2 separate regions of the Homo sapiens genome follow, and region 1 is linked to region 2. The links come from fine-mapping of genetic effects on gene expression. A gene starts in region 2. The other region holds a variant in brackets. All regions are shown on one strand. Distances are from middle to middle.

The links. PIP is the estimated chance that this variant, and not a neighbour inherited with it, causes the effect.
Region 1: its variant is fine-mapped to the expression of QKILA in esophagus mucosa (GTEx, PIP 0.99).

The regions. Positions count from the first base shown.
Region 1 is chr4:139,655,420-139,658,334 of GRCh38, reverse strand. No RefSeq gene overlaps it. Among named protein-coding and RNA genes, the nearest start is that of MGST2, 8.9 kb to the left of the region's middle. The variant T/G (reference allele first, on the strand shown) is at 1,606.
Region 2 is chr4:139,621,817-139,624,731 of GRCh38, reverse strand. It overlaps QKILA (QKI interacting lncRNA), which reads left to right and starts at 1,478. Exons shown (of 2, transcript NR_187398.1): 1 at 1,478-1,631.

The DNA of each region.
Region 1 (2,915 bases), 34 kb before region 2:
ACTGGTGATTCTCACATTAGAATCACCAAGGGCGTTTTTGAAATAAACACTGATTTAACTGAAAAATCTCCAGGACTACCAACTACTGCCTCAGAGAACTTACTGAGATTTCTATGCACCAGAGGAGAGTTTACTCTCTTGAAACCTACAGCATATTATGTGATTGGGCTACTTAAAGAAAAAAAGGGGTACCGTGGCTTCACTTGGTGTCTCTCTGGGGCTTAAGGCAAAAGAAAAAGGGCAAGCTACCCCTCTTTTGATGAGAAAACACAAAAGGTTGGTGGATTAAGAACAAACAGTTAAAAGCAGCTCTTATTCACTTTGAAATGTGGTGCTAAACCTGCATCTGGGCTGACACACCAAACAACAGTCATTTCAACACAGCACAATCCTGTTAGAACATGACTCACAAAAACACCGATGTGTCTAGATCGGAGGCCAAGTCACGTCCTGCACAAAAAGAAAGGAAACACAGCAAAACAAGAAACCTACTGGCCCCAAACAGGAAAGCCCTCCTGTGCATGCGGGCCTGTGACTGCATCCTTCAGCTACCTTAGCAAGATGATAAAGAACTTTGAAAACTGCTTGCCTGCTTCTCTTTTCTTTCTTTCTTTCTTTCTTTCTTTCTTTCTTTCTTTCTTTCTTTCTTTCTTTCTTTCTTTCTTCTTCCTCTTCCACTTCTTCCTTTCCTTTCTCCGCCTCTCCCTCCCCTCCTTCTCCTCCCCTTCCTCCCCCTCCCTTCTCCTCCTCCTCTTCCTCCTTCTTCTTTCTTTCTTCTTGTTCTTCCCTCGTTCTTCTTTCTTTTCTTCTTCCCTCCTGCTTGCCCTTAGGGTGTGCCTGGTTCTCACCTTTGCTTCTGGGACTTGGGCAGGATGATATCCTCAGAATTTCAGTTTCTGGCCATTCCCAGACAAACCTGTCTGGGACAGGAATTCCAGACAAAACAGCTTATCCGCCCTTCCACGCCCTCTCCTGCATGAGCCTATTTTTCATTCTCTTCTCAGAGGTCCCACTGGCTGGTCATCTAATTTCATCCCTAATTTGTAGTAGAAGGATTCTAACAGCCACACATTTAGAGCTAGGAGCTGCAGTTTAAGGTGCTCTATCAAAATAACATATTTTGTGAAACCGCTAGGGGGAGTCAATCCAGGGCTGCCAGACCTGCCGGGATAACACCACCAGAGGCAGCTCAGCTTCCAGGCAAGCCACCCTCTGAGGTCCCTGTGATAGCTTACTCCTCCAGGTTTCCAGAAGTCCCTACAGATGCACATCAGTGAAAATGGAACAAGTCAGTTAACACAAACTGTCAAAATCATCTCTAAATAATGTCCTATAAAAATTCAGTTTTTCAGGTATGAACACATTGACCATTTCCAGCAAGCGACCTGTAACAGTCAATTGCTCAAAACCCACAGGTGCTCAAATGTAAAAATACCAGGATTTAACCGTTAGTCCTGATCCACTCAGAGCTAGACGGAAGCCAAACACAGACGCTGCCCCAGAGACGTACATTCCATGGAGAAGGGTCAGAAAAGGACACTTTACGTTTGGCATCCCTGTGGCAAACTGCGAGGGGATAGAGGAGGGGTGAGAAAAGACACAAGG[T/G]TTCCACCTGGTGGTGGGGAAATCCCTAGCCAAGGGGATGCCCGTTTTTTGATCAATATTCCGAGGAATTGGATACCACACCTTGGACTTTGATTTGATCCCTTGATGTACCCCTAGCTTTTAAAGTGGCTTGGTTAAAAAAAAAAACAAAAACTTTGCAAAAATTATTTGGAAAGGAGTGGGTCAGAGAGCTGGGCAGTGTCTGAAGAGTTTCTCAAGATCAGGCAGACAGTTTGGTTGGTAAAACATCCGAGAACTGGGTTTTTATTCATACTGGAATGAGGGTACTGCTTTGCAATGAAAGAGAAAAATCTAAAGCAAGGAAAGGGGGCCAGGTGCAGTGGCTCACGCCTGTAATCCCAGCAACTCAGGAAGCTGAGGCAGGAGGATCGCTTGAGTCCAGGAGTTCTAGGCTGCAGTGAGCTATGACTGCACCACTGCACTCCAGCCTGAGCTGCCATCTCAAAAAAAAAAGAAAAGAAAAAAGAAAGAAAGAAAGGAACAAACCAGAAAATAGCAATGCACATAAGGCCGGGCGTGGTGGCTTATGCCTGTAATCTCAGGATTTTGGGAGGGCGAGGCGGGCGGATCACTTGAGGTCAGGAGTTCAAGACCAGCCTGGCCAACATGGTGAAACCCCATTTCCACTAAAAATACAAAAAAATAGCCAGGTGTGATGGCATGCTCCTGTAGTCCCAGCTACTCGGGAGGCTGAGGCAGGAGAATCACTTGAATCTGGGAGGCAGAGGTTGCAGTAAGCCGAGATCGCCCCACTGCACTCCAGCCTGGGAGACGGTGCAAGAATCCTTCTCAAAAAAAAAAGAAAAAAAAAAAGAATGTGCATAAGTTCATTTATTCATTCATTCATCAAATGCATTGAGTACCTACCACATGCCAAGCTCCATACTAAGTGCTGAGACCCAGGAATAAGCAAGACAGACAACAGCCCTGCTCTTACAGTATTTACAGCAGAGTGAGGAGGATGTACATTAACAAGCCATAACCAAAGCGAATTAATTCATGATCAATGTGGGGAGTGCTGTGAGAGGTCCCAACTGCCATACGAATGTATGTCAGGGGGCCTAACCTAGTCTGGGAGGCAAGAAGAGCCTTCGCAAAAGTGACATTTTGGCTGAGGACTGATCCTAAAGTGTTAGCTAGATGAATGGTGCACAGGTGTGTGTGTGTCAGAGGGTGGACTGGAAGGAGAAAGGGGAATATTCCAGGCTGAGAAAGAACAGGAAAAGGCTTGTAGAGGGAAAGGCTATGGCATGGTCAAAGAATCCTGAATGAAGTCCGGTGTGGCTGTT
Region 2 (2,915 bases):
TCTGCCCCTTTGAGATGTATGTAAATCTCTTCAAAAGCCTCCTGCCAGTTTTACAATCCAGGAATGTCTTTCTCAAGGACCTGGGAGCCCTCCCTTTGAAATGTAATCATCAAAGGAGATGGCACCCCTGTCTCCCAGTCTTTGTGGAGAGTTTTTGTGGGAGTCTAACTTCAGCAGGACACCTTCCTCCAAGTCATAAAACCATCCCTTGTCAAAAGATAGAAGTTTATTAGCAAACACAAATGGCCTACGACCTCTTCACAACATCCTCTGGCATGTTTCACTAGCCTTTAAAAGCCTTTAAAAACTTTGCACCCTCTGCATCAGCAGCATTGAGTTCACACTGAGTTCTAGTCCCTCTCTCCTGTTGCAATAACTTCGGATAAACTTCCTTGCGTGTTTAACTTTTCCAGGCAAGTAATTTTTTTTCTAATACTAATTAGAAAATTTTGCTTTGATGTCCCCCTCCTTACACCTCCAAAATCTGTCTCATTTCTTTGTAGCATTGGTCCTCAAATTTCAAAAAGCATGTTTTTACATAACCTGGAGGGCTAGTTAAAACACATTTCTGAGGATGGACGTGGTGGCTCACACCTGTAATCCCAGCACTTTGGGAGGCCGAGGCAGGCGGATCACTTGAGGTCAGGAGTTTGAAACCAGTCTGGCCAACATGGTACGACCCCATCTCAATTAAAAATATGAAAATTAGCCGGCATGGTGGCACGCACCTGTAATCCCAGCTACTCTGGAGGCTAAGGCAGAAGAATCACTTGAATCCAGGAGGCAGAGGTTGCAGTGAGCCAAGATCGCACCACTGCAATGTGGTTACCAGCCTGGGCCACAGAGCAAGACTCTGTCTCAAAAAACAAACAAACAAACACGTTTCTGAAGCAGGAGGCCTGGGATGGGGCTTCAGAATGACACTTTCAACAAGTTTCCAGATGAATTGGGGCTGGTCTAGAAACCACACCTTTAGAATGACGTTAGCATGTTTTTTGCACAGACAATCTTAACTCCCTGAATTCCCTTTAGTTAATGGAGACTCTAGTACACCATCCTGCAGTGGGGCCATTTCCATAGCTGGTGAAGAAATTTTCTTTCCCACAGTCTTCCTCCTCTCTTTTTCATACTTTTCCCTCTTTTGCTTTCTGGCCATATGCCTTCTTTTGCTTTCCTCCCCTTCCACCTCTAACTCACAGCAATTCTCTTCCCTCTACCAACCAGCCTGTTCCAAAAAAAAAAAAAAAAAAAAAAAAGGTCCCCTTTTATTCCTTAGGGTAGCACTTGTTTTTGTTTTTTAACATCCAAATCCTTCTTGGAGCCCCTTCGTATTCTCTCTCTGAGGAAGACGGAGGGGGCTTCCCTCATCCTCCCTTGTTACCTAGCAACTTGTCTTCTTCCTGACAAGTCACCACCCTGCCAGGATGCCAGCTGATGCACACACAATAAAGGGAAAGTGAGCAGACACCACCACTCCAGTCCACTCATAGAGGACCCTCTGCGCATTAGCACTCCGATGAGTGGCTTGCTATGGGCAGGTCCCCCAGACGCCTCTCCCCCAGTAAGCTGGCCACACTGCTCCTCCAGGGATCTCAGAGAGATGGCAGCTTGTCAAGTTCCTGAGTCGCTGGGTATGTACTGGGAATTTCAGATTTAATCCCTAATTACATCCAGCTCATCACCTTTGTAATAGGAGCCATAATCATCTTTTCATTGTTGTCTTTGAGTCACTGGGGCTGTGTGGAACACTATATCCATATTCATGCATGTGTTTTCTATTTTGCTACTACATCCTCTTCCTTAGACTTCAAAATGAAGGGGGATTTTCTTTTCTCCTGCAAAAGCCTTTATGAAAGAAGGTGTTTGCTTAACACTTTCAAGCTTCCCCATTGACATCCTTTGTTCTTTCTCTACACATTCATGGATTAACTACTTTGGGTCCAGCCGTGGTAACCAACTTCAATTTGTCACAGAAAATGTAGATGTTTTTAGGTAGGGCTTATATAGTGGAAAAGATATGGACACAAACTCCCTTCCTGGACCAACTGAGGAAGGAAGATTTCTCAACCTCACTTTCTGTAATCCTAAAAGAAACAGTAGAATAGGAAAGGAGGAAAGGAGAGAAAGATAGAAAGAGAAAAAAATTAACTCCACTCTAAAAAGGCATTCATAGCAATAATACTTATAACAGAGAACAATGGAAAACTACCCAGATGCTTGGTCAGGCGCGGGGGCTCATGCCTGTAAACCCAGCACTTTGGGAGGCTGAGGTGGGTGGATCACGAGGTCAGGAGTTCAAGACCAGCCTGGCCAAGATGGTGAAACCCTGTCTCTACTAAAAATACAAAAATTAGCCAGGTGTGGCAGTGCACACCTGTAATCCCAGCTACTCAGGAGGCTGAGGCAGGACAATTACTTGAACCCAGGAGGTGGAGGTTGCAGTGAGCTGAGATTGCACCATTGCACTCCAGCCTGGGCAACATAGCAAGACTGTGTCCCCACCACCAAAAAAAGAAAGAAAATTACCCAGTTGCCCAATAGGTAAATGGACAATCATTATAGCAATGCAACAGAAGATAATTAGATCAATTTCATAAATGACAGCCTATGTAAATGGACCATACAAATCACAGAGGTATTTTAATATATATTTAAATATACACAAGCATGCAATGTATAAATATAACTGACATATATTTTAATATAATAATTTATGGGAAAAGAATCCAATAGAGATTAAACACACTGGTTAGATTCATGCAAAAATACATTAGACTGTTCAGAAAAATTAAGAACAATATGTGAAAAGGTATGAGTAGTATAGAGCTGTGCTGTCCAATATGGTAGCCACTAGCCACATGTGGTTAACTGAGTACTTGAAATGTGGCTAGTCTGAATTGAGATTTAAGTGTAAA